Homo sapiens: one gene and its partners. The protein of the gene in region 3 purifies or fractionates together with the protein of the main gene of each other region. This does not show direct contact. Each region holds a gene or a part of one and is shown on either strand. Other genes may lie near its edges.

The links.
Region 1: the proteins of WDR1 (region 3) and GOT1 fractionate together in Homo sapiens (co-fractionation; one large-scale study listed by BioGRID). This does not show direct contact.
Region 2: the proteins of WDR1 (region 3) and LACTB2 fractionate together in Homo sapiens (co-fractionation; one large-scale study listed by BioGRID). This does not show direct contact.

The regions. Positions count from the first base shown.
Region 1 is NC_000010.11:99,406,608-99,410,258, forward strand, and holds part of GOT1 (aspartate aminotransferase, cytoplasmic), read right to left. Parts: intron 243-3,651; coding exon 119-242; intron 1-118. UniProt on the Homo sapiens protein: Biosynthesis of L-glutamate from L-aspartate or L-cysteine. Important regulator of levels of glutamate, the major excitatory neurotransmitter of the vertebrate central nervous system. Acts as a scavenger of glutamate in brain neuroprotection.
Region 2 is NC_000008.11:70,666,948-70,670,698, forward strand, and holds the start of LACTB2 (endoribonuclease LACTB2), read right to left. Parts: upstream 2,239-3,751; 5' UTR 2,174-2,238; coding exon 2,052-2,173; intron 1-2,051.
Region 3 is NC_000004.12:10,082,227-10,085,877, forward strand, and holds part of WDR1 (WD repeat-containing protein 1), read right to left. Parts: intron 2,305-3,651; coding exon 2,217-2,304; intron 953-2,216; coding exon 796-952; intron 1-795.

The DNA of each region.
Region 1 (3,651 bases), on a different chromosome or scaffold from region 3:
CATTCCCAACAGTCAGTTGTTCTAGGGCTGGATTACATTTTCTGTGTAACCAGGGAGAGTCATGAGGATAATTCTCTCTGGTTTCTGTTTTTCCTCTCACTTCAGCTGAAAGACTCACCCCAGGTTGGTGAGGACACATAGACAGGTGTGTTCTTGTTGTTTGTTCCATTGTACCAACGCGCTAAGAAATCAGCTCCAATTCGAAGTGCACCTGTTCCCCCCAAAGATTGCACACCTCCTACCTGAAAGAGAAGAAACAGGGTCACAGGCTGATAATGGTGAGGTCAGATAATATTTACAAAAATAAGGTAATAATGAGCACTTACTCTATGCCTGCTCTGTGCTAAGGCTTTTAATTGTATTATCTCATCAAAACCTTACAACTACTACATGAAAAAGGTACTATGATTTGCCCATGTTTACAACTGAGGAAACTGAGGCTGAGAGAGGTGAAGAACCTTGCTCAAAGTTACCAGCTACTGAGCAGGAGTGCCAGTCTTCAACCCAGGAGGTCTGACACTAGAAGAAGCTTCCCTTCTGAACACAGAGGTAGAGGACACACCGAGGCCACATTAGTGTGTGTGTGTGTGTGTGTGTGCATGCACGCACATGCCTTGGAAGGCAAACCCATCTCTTCAGCACCCATCCTAAGATCAAACTTACCCTCTAGCATAAGCCTCTAAAACAGTGTTCCTAACTTGTCATTGACATCAATCTGTGCTACTCCTCATCTCTAGAATTCAGGCTTATTAATCCTTAGAAGTATGTTCTAACAAAACAGAGGTGATGCATGAGTACTACTTTCTTCTCCTTGGCTTCCTCTCATTTTTTTTTTTTTTCTTTTTGAGACAGTCTCATTCTGTCACCTAGGTTGGAGTGCAGTGGCATGGTCTCAGCTAACTGCAACTTCCGCCTCCCAGGTTCAAGTGATTCTCCTGCCTCAGCCTCCCGAGTAGCTGGGACTACAGGCGCCTGCCACCATGCCCGGCTAATTTTTTGTATATTTAGTAGAGACGGGGTTTCACCATTTTGGCCAGGTTGGTCTCGAACTCCTGACCTTGTGATCTGCCTGCCTTGGCCTCTCAAACTGCTGGGATTACAGGTGTGAGCCACTGCGCCTGGCTGGCTTCCTCTCATCCTAAAGTGACCTAACATAGGCAATAATAAAAGCCATATTTTATTTATTTATTTATTTATTTATTTTACTTTAAGTTCTGGGATATGTGTGCAGAATGTGCAGGTTTGTTACATAGCTATACATGTGCCATGGTGGTTTGTGGCACCCATCAACCCGTCATCTAGGTTTTAAGCCCCGCATGCATTAGGTATTTGTCCTAATGCTCTCCCTCCCCTTGCCTCCCACCCACCGATAGGCCCCCGTGTGTGATGTTCCCCTCCCTGTGTCCACGTGTTCTCATTGTTCAGCTCCCACTTTTAAGTGAGAACATGAGGTGTTTGGTTTTCTATTCCTATATTTTATCATTTACAAAATGCTTTCATGTATACTCAATGCCCACATGCCCTCTAAAGTCAAGTCTATATCCCCTGAAACATGAGGAACTGATTCAGAGACATGTTTTTCCCAAAGGATACACAGTTGTGAGTGGCACAGCTCAGCACAAATCCAGGTTTTCCATTCTAGATGGAGTCACTACATTCTAATGATGTAGTTCTCTGCCTATAGATCTTTGATTTTGCCTCTTCAAAATTCTAATTAGGTTTCAGCATAAGTCTCTCAGCAGAAAAATGTCATAAACCCCATGTTGCCCAATTTGTCTAAAGGATTGAAGAGAAAGGAAGAAAAAGATCACATGAAAAAGTCTATCTAGCCGGGCGCAGTGGCTCACGCCTGTAATCCCAGCACTTTGGGAGGCCAAGGTGGGTGGATCACTTGAGCCCAGGAGTTTGAGACCAGCCTGGCCAACATGGTGAAACCCTGTCTCTCCTAAAAATACAAGAAAATTAGCTGGGCATGGTGGCACACACCTGTAATCTCAGCTACTCGGGAGGCTGAGACGTGAGAATCATTTGAACCTGGGAGGCAGAGGTTGCAGTGAGCCAAGATCGCACCACTGCCCTCCAGCCTGGGCAACACAGTGAGACTCTGTCTCAAATAAATAAATAAGTAAATACAAGGAGGGACACACGCCAATCTTCTAACAGTGGCAACCTCTGGGGAGGGGTCCAAGGATGTAGGAATAGTGGTTGAAAGGGACTTTGGCCTAATCTATAAGTCGTTTTTTTAAAAATAAGATGAATGTATTCATGTATTAGTCATAAAATTTTACAATTTCAAACACCTATTTAGATGTCTGGGATTTACTATTAAATAATAATCCAGCTTTCGTGGAGGGCAGGGAGGCAGGGAGGCAGGGAGTGGGTAGATGGAAATACACAGGATTGACCCTATACAGATAATTGTTGAAGCTAGGTGATGGATACACAGGGATTCATTCTTTATACTGTTTTCTCTACTTTCATATAGATTTGAAATGTTCCATAATAAAAAGGTTTTTTTTGTGTTTTTTTTTTGTTTGTTTTTTGAGACAGAGTCTCGCTCTGTTGCCCAGGCTGGAGTGCAGTGGCACGATCTTGGCTTACTGCAACCTCCGCCTCCTGGGTTCAAGTGATTCTCCTGCCTCAGACTCCTGAGGAGCTGGGACTACAGGCACGTACCACCACACCCAGCTAATTTTTGTGTTTTTAGTACAGATGGGGTTTCACCATGTTGGTCAGGCTGCTCTCCAACTCCTGACCTCGTGATCCGCCTGCCTCGGCTTCCCAAAGTACTGGGATTACAGGCATGAGCCACCACGCCTGGCCAATAAAAAAGTTTTAAAACTCTTCTTAGAGAAGAAAAGCTTCCTAAATCTTTTCAAGAACCTAACATAACATTGCTGCTAAAAGACAACAAAAGGGAAAAAAGTAGAATGAGAGACCTAGATCGTACCTTGATACTAACTTCCCAAGTAAACATTAATGAACAATATTAATCCAGCAGTACATTAAAATTACCCCCTTGATTGAGAGTCATCCCATGAATGGATTATAAGAGATATAAAACCAATCATGCTGCTAGATAGAGAAAACCCAAATGATCATCACAACAGGTAAGAAAAGCTTGGCTATTCCTGAGATAAATGCTTAGTAAAACAGGAAACAGTGGATACTTCCTGAAAATGACTGAAAAAAATTCATTTAACCCATAAGTCAGCTTAAAAACAGTGAATCGTTTAGTAGAAATCCCATTTAAGCCAACAACAAGGTAATGTTACCAATTATCGGCACTATTATGCACCAATGTTCTGTTTGTATTTATAGGTGTGAGCATCTGTGAAAGAATACTATCTGAAATGTGAAACATAAGCAAAGTTGACATTCAAGGGGATGCAGAACTAAACATAGCTGTACATTACAGAGAGGGGCAAAGGCAGTGCACTGGGGTGAAAATGCTCAGTGTGTGTCAGATTTGGTGTGCTAACTACTCTGTTATTTACAGTGATCCTTACTGAGCACTCATCCCTTGCTATTACTTTAAAAGTTTTGCCCCCACATTGTGGTTTACCTGAATTCTTTATGCAAATTGCTACCAAGATGATATAACACAAATGTGCATTTATTTTTTATGGATTTGTCATCCAGCTAAGTTGA
Region 2 (3,751 bases), on a different chromosome or scaffold from region 3:
GAAGATCAAGTTTGGAATTTGAACTTGAGCTATATATTTGGTAGTTAATAATAAACAGATAATAAAGGCAAAGCCAAATAAGTAGATGAGATCACCTAGGTAGAGAATACAGTAGAAGAACATGAGAGATGAGGATTATATACTGAATAACTAAAATAATTAAAGATTTGATAAAGAAGATGACTCTATCAAGGTGAAAGAGAAAGAGCAGCTCAAGAGGTAATAGGAAACCTGAAGAATGTGGTGTTGGCAAATTAAGGAGGGAGTCGTCAATGGTGTCAAAGCACTGAAGTTCAAGGAAGATGAGAACAGAAAAATACCATTGGGGTTAGTGATACAAAAGCCGCTTGTGATCTTAGAACTGTTTTGTGAAGCGGAACAGGTGGATACCAATCTCAGAACATCTGACAAGGGGCCAATTAATATTAACTTCTAGCCACCTTTTACTTTACACCTTTTACTTTATACAGTAGCATTATCTACACTTATTTCTAGCTCAACTATACGGACTCTCTAGTTCAACTATATGGAGAAATAATTTACATAGTGCAAGTAATTCCACTGGCCATTCCACTCCATTAATTTATGTGAGCAACAGTGTTAAGTAATTTAAGACGAGAGACTATAAATCTGCTTTTCCCTCAGTTAGTCTTTAAGTCTCTCTTAGCACTAGCACTTTGCTATGTTGAGTGTGATTATAGTGTTTAAAGATACAGTATGTATTTTTCATACAATATAGCCCCTCAACACAAGCCAATTTCTTCACCTGGTTTTCAAACAGAATCAGCCATCTGTTTCAACGCTGGAAAAAAGGCAGGTTGTGCTGAACTTACTGAGACAATACACTGATCTCCAACATGGTGTTCTTCTAAGAGACTTTCCAGGGTAATTCTGATAATATGCATCTTTTGTCTGAGGTATTGACTAGTTCAAGATGACACACTGTAGAGAGACCGCCTATGGATTTACTTGGTTGAGGGACTTCCAGCCAAGACAGACTGTACCCTAGAGATCTGGCATTTTTCCTGCTTAATTCTCTATCCTCCTAGATTCTGGTGGCAGCCTAAACCTTTGGTAACTACCTGACCCTGCCTTATTTACTCTGAACTTAATCTTTTACCTGCCCACTTTGCAGGTCTGCTGCTTCTAAAATTCTTATTTACTGGAAAAACGCCAAACAGTAGACACTTCCAAGGAAAACTCAATTAACTGTACTTACTAAATCGTTTTTAGTAATCAATTATATTTTAAAAATAATTTATGTCTTGACTGCACAATTAAATTCTATGCTCAAGAGAAACTACATTATCTGGGTTCATCCAGTAAAGACTACAAAAGTTGCTAAATGCCTAAGACTTACTATGCAGTAAACCAAATCTCCCATTCCTGCATAATTCCACTAAAACAGAATGCAGCTAAACAAGAGCAAAAGTATCTTCTTAGAAATACAGGTGTGTTACTGTGTCTGCAAATTAAACTCAAACAAGGTCACACACAATTGTAACAAAAAACTTCCCCAAATTACTTATGTCAGCTCCTCTTATGAGCCCACAGGCTGCAGAGAACCAATTTGGAAGCCAGGAGAATCCTGCCCTCTGCTGCTGAGTTGAGGAAATCGCCTCAACATAATTAATCGCTTTTGAGAAGGGAAGTTACACTCTGGGCAAAACACCAGTGAAAGTCAAGTGAGCAAAGTAAACGCTTTCTTGGACTCTTGACATCCGAATTTTCTCAACAGTTTAAACACGCACACCCTGGCATTCAAACATCAAGAACAGTAAATCGGGTTTCAAAACAGAAGTTTTTTTTTTTTTTTTTTTTTTTTTTTCCATTTCTCCCTAAATTAGAGAGCTATCACCTGGGGTGGTCGTATTTTAGCTAGCTTCGAGATCCGAGTGTCTGCGTGCAGTCCCGACGGGGCTGCTAGGCGCGGGGCTGCCCAGCTAGGGACAGGACGCGGCGCTCTCCACTGCCCGCGCAGCCGCGATCAGTCAAAGCCCGGGCTCCGGGGCCGGCTGCGAACGTTGGGGAGGTTGGAGAGGGACGTTTACCTGGGGCCGGTCCCCACTAGGTAGGTGTTGGTGCCTTGGAGGGTCATGGGACCCGGGTTACAGCCCAACACACGCACGACTCGATTGGACAGCCGCTCGACGCGCTGCAGTACAGCAGCCATTCCCGCCTCAGCCGCCCGCCGGCGTGTCGCCTATCTGGATACTCCAGCGCGGAAGAAGCCAACAGGCCGGGGATAGCGAGTAGCGTCCACGTGATGCCTCGCAACCCGGGAGGGAGGGGATTGGCCAGCGGCTGGTCCAGGTGTCATGTGACACCGCGGACGAGCCGGGGCGGGGATCCGGCAGCTAGGCCGGGGGGTGGGGGGGGCGGTGCGGAACTAGAGGTCACGTGACGCCGCGCGGGCTGCGCGGGCAGTGGTGGGAAGGCTGGCGCGAGGCGTGAGGTGGCGTGAGGCGAAGCTGGAATCTGCCTCTGTCACGGGGGCTGGTGCCTCACGGGTTTGTGTCCTAGACAGGCGAGTGGATCCAAGTGGGCGAGAGACATTTTAATCTGGAAGAGTCTTGTGATTTGGGAGACAGGTTTGGTAACCGTTCGTTATTCAGTAATAAATGTCAGGAAGGATTGCCAGATTTTTAGGCAGTGGCTCTGTGTGTGTGTGTGTGTGTGTGTGTGTGTGTGTAGTAGTAGTAGTAGTAGCCTGTTCATTTTTTTTTTTTTTTTTTTTGAGACGAAGTCTCGGTCTGTCGCCCAGGCTGGAGTGCAGTGGCGCGATCTCGGCTCACTGCAAGCCCCGCCTCCCGGGTTCACGCCATCCTCCTGCCTCGGCCTCCCGAGTAGCTGGGACTATAGGCGTCCGCCACCACGCCCGGCTAATTTTTTGTATTTTTAGTAGAGACCGGGTTTCATTGTGTTAGCCAGGAAGGTCTTGATCTCCTGACCTCGTGATCCGCCCGCCTCGGCCTCCCAAAGTGCTGGGATTACAGGCGTGAGCTACCACGCCGGGCCAGCCTGTTCATCTTTTATAATAAATAGTGGTAAGACATATTTACTTAGTACTTCCTACTATGCCTAAGTGCTTTCAACAAACATCCGACTTAACGCCCTTAATCCTCAGAACATTATTAAGAGGTGGACACTATTTTTGTTACAAATGAAAAACGGGGATTGGGCAGCTGCCCAGATGACAGAGTCTGCGTGTGCGGCCTTGCTCCTACCTGCCTCGCACTAACACTTGTCCCCCTCAGTGAGATTCAAGGAGCATGCCTCTGCCTGCCAGTGTTACCTGCCTGCCCAGAGAGCTAGGCTGGTCTTGTGGAGCCGTTTTGTGCCCAAGATGGAAGGGACTCATTTTCTCTGTAACAAGTCGGTTTCTTATCAGCCAAGTATTAACTATCCAGTGTTAACTACAGCTTCCCATAAAAAAAGTTGAGTTATAAATTACTTAAAAGAAAATACACAGATCCTGTAGACAGTTCCATCGAGTTATGACAATTGTATGTAATCACTGCCCCAAAGAGATGTAGAACATATCCACTGTAGCAGCCCACTCTTTTTTTTTTTAAAAAAAGGTGAGAAATTGACACATACAGTGCTTGGTGGCTTTTTTTTTTCCAGATATTTCTGATGAAGAAAACGATCTGCTCTTACCTATTTTATGAATCAGCAGCATAGTGTATCAGAGTGGCTAATGACATCTGCTTTGTGTGTGAGAAATGTCTTTGCCTTGTTTCACACAGTT
Region 3 (3,651 bases):
GCCTGTGTTACCTACAAGGACGGCACACCTGCTAGGAGTTGCGTGCTGCACCCTGTGCCAGGCTCCCATCAACAGGCCCCAGGAGTCCCCATCTCCCAGGCAACACGACTTAGGCAGGACTACCGGGTGACAAAGGGGTCTACACAAGAAATGTAGGGCCAGAGGAGGGGTCAGACCTGGGCATGGGGACACTGGATGTGCAGTGGCCTCGTCAGGTCCTGGAACATTTCTCTTTCAAGTCCCTCCAACTGCATTTAGGACTTCAGATCACTTGCAAACTGCTACTCTCCTAGCTCCACTGACTGCCAATCAAAGGCCCAAGACCAAAAACAAACAAGACATTGTCTTTTAACCAGATCACTGTGTGCCCATCTCACCCTTGAGCAGAAGGGGAATGCTGTCTTGTACTCAGCACCTGCCCTGTGCCAGGCTCACCTAATCCACAACAGCCTGAGGCAGGCTCCACTGTACCCGCCTTTACTGATGAGGAAAGGGACACAGGGAGAGACCGCAGCAGGTTCCTGGAGAACAGGGCTGTGATCTGCTGCCCCTGCTTCCAGGGCAGAGTCCACACCTGGTCGTTGTCTGTGGGCAAGAGCATTACCCAGACCACCTGGATCTGTAACACAGTGCTGGGCTCAGGGCCCAACAACAGGAGAACAATGCTGGGGACGGGGTGGGAGAGATGAAAGGAGCAAGTGAGGCGTCCTCCAGAACAGTAACTGCTGGAGGGCACAAGCCCTCCGAGGGGAGCTGAGGCTCATCCGGAACCCCCGCAGACCCGAGTGCTCTCACCTGTAGTCCCGCAGCATGAGGCTGGTGTACCGCACGGTGTCGTCCATGCTGCAGCTGATGAGCTGCCCCGACTCATCCACGGTCATCCTGGACACCTGGTTCGTGTGGCCTTTCCCAGCGAAGGAGTCGTTCTCCCCCGTCTCTGAATCCCAGTAATGTAGGGTGGGGTTAAGGAAAAGCCCGGCTCCCAGGACTGCTGGGTGTTCTCAGGTGTGGCTTCAGTCCTAAGATTCTCCATTTACATCAAGAATGAGAATCTCGCCGCAAACGGACATAACCATTCCCCCTGGGAAGCCTGCAGTGTCCACTGTTGACACGTTCTTAGGAAGGGGTATCTGAAGTGTGGGTGCACCACACAGGGATTGGGATGAGGCAGAAAGGGAGCCGTGCTGAAGGCCTACTGGGGACCAGCAAGCTGGGGAGGCTCCGGCGTCTCCTCTGCTACTAGTTATCGGGTAGGCGCAACCCTCTAACCCCACATTTCTTTATGTTTTGGGGGCAGAGGGTGGCATGTCTGCCCTCCTCTCCCAGCCTGGGGGGACCTCCTTGGGTCCCGGACAGTCCCTTTGGGAGGTACAGCACATGCGGACCAGAGCTGTCCACACAAAAGGCAGTCTCCAACACAGCACGGTGCTCAGGGAGGGCAGCAGAACAACGCACAGCAGGTGCCATCATCAGCAACGTGTGTGGGCATCCCTGCCCAGGCACTCTGCAGATGGTGGCTCCAAGGTTCAAGACACACCCGTGAGCAGGGTGTCACCAGCCCCAGGCCATGCAGGAAAAACACAACAGAAGCCCCCATCATCAGGGAGAAACCAGGACTCATTTAAAGAAACCCAGACAAGGACTTATAAGGGGGACACAAACACCTCCAGGGAACATCACCGAAGGGCCACAAGGCACCTCGCAGGAGCTCCAGCCCTGGCTCTGTGGACCACAGGCTGCATGACTCTGGGGCGGGCACATCAGCTCTCTGGGCTCTGGTTTTCCTATTTTTAAAACAAGGGGACCCAACGTAAGGGTGTCCAGGTGCTTGTGAATTCTAGGAATCAAGAAACCCACCATGTGGAGTAGGGCCAAGGCTGGCGCCAGGTGCCATTGGCAGAGGTAGTGGCAGCCCAAGCTCAGGGCCGTTAAGCCACACTCTCAGGGTTGCACGACAAGAAGGGACTGATCAGGTCGGAGCCGCCCATGGCTTTTCCTCAGCATAAGCCCTGGAGTTGCCAAGGACAACTCCAGGGGACAGTTGCCTGTCCCCATGTACAGACAGGCCACCCCTAGAAGCCACACGGGTCAGAAGAGCGTGTGGCTGTGGCTGCAGCTGGAGCCACCTGGCTGGCCTGGCCTCTGGCATCATGGGAACAGGAAATTCCCCCCTAGAGCCAGCGGCTCCGGAGCCAGCTCTTTGAGTCAAAGGATATTAATGTGTCCGTCGTGGCTCCCAGAGTAAATGTAGGACTTGCCGCCGTTTTTATGCACCGTCAGACACTGGATCGATTTACTGTGACCCTGTGAAGGAGACACACTGGGCGGGTAAGCTGATGACACACTGCCCTGCCCTCTGCCACCCGCTTTCCACCAACGAAGCTTCTGGGTAATGGAGGGGGCAGACGCCCCTCAATCCATGGCAGTGCAGGTGCTCTGAGGCCCCAGTAGCCCCAGCTGCCCGAATGCACGGCCCACGAGCCCTAAGAAACCTTTCCAAAGCTACCCAGTCACCTACAGACCCTGCCCTTCATTCCCCTCCCTCCAAGGTACCTAACCCAGACCTGGGCCCAGACCTGCGTCTAACCAAGGCCCAGCACGTCAGCACCTGAGCACCTAACGTGTGCAGACACGTGGCCTGCACCCCGCCGACCAGCACCCGTCGCGGGGAGCCACAAGGGGGTCGGTCCAGGAGGACTTCGCTGGCCACATTCGCTTCAGGCCCTGGTTTGTGAGGTTTCTTCTCTCTCCCTGCCCAGGAGTGCTGGCCCTGCTGAGGGCAGGGGTCTCTCTGATCACTGTAAAAGCCCAAGGCTGTCCGTGAACGCTGACGCTCCTACCCTAACCTCCCTGACTGCTGCAGTGGAGGGCACACAAGGCTGGTCCACAACCAGACAGCTGCTTCCAGAGGGCGGCGTTTAGCCCCCTCCATATCTGAGCCTGAGACAAAAATAACAGCTAGGGTGCAGGCTCCTCATGCCTTTCTCCTGCAAAGGGAGGCCAGCTCCTGGCTGGCCCCTCTCCTCTGAGCTCAGGGCTTTTCCGCAGGAATTCTTGATCTCTGTGGTATGCCACATGTTGCCACAATATGGCATAGATCTTTGGATGCAGGTCTCCTTGGAGACAGGTACACAGTTACCAGTGGGACTGGAGAATGGGCAACGAATGCAGCTACTTTCATCTTTTCCACAGAGACGTGGGGAAAAATCATCACATGCCCCAGTAAGAGACACTGAGCTGGGCGGCCTCCTTCCAATGTGGCATCCCACCAGTCCCTTACAGCGCGGACCTCAGACCAGCACAGCCCCCACCAGCAGGGCTCAGGCCCACCTTCCTGCCAAATCAGAACGTGCACTCGGCAAGAGGCCAAGAGACTTGTGTGCAGGCTCAATGCCTTGAACTTACCAGAAACACTCCTAGCCATGCCCAGATGCCCACGGGTGTTCCTTCTGGAGGCCTGCAAGCTCCTGCTGCCCTGAGACTTCCCTGTAAACTTAGTGCCTCTGGGGGCGTCAGCAGCCAGCGCTTTTTAGAGCTCCCAGGTGGTTCTAACACGCAGCCTGGGCTGATACCTGCTGCTCCATCCCACTGCAGCCCAGATCAGCACCGAACATCAGCATCTGCGTGACTCACACAGGTGTGGCATTTGAG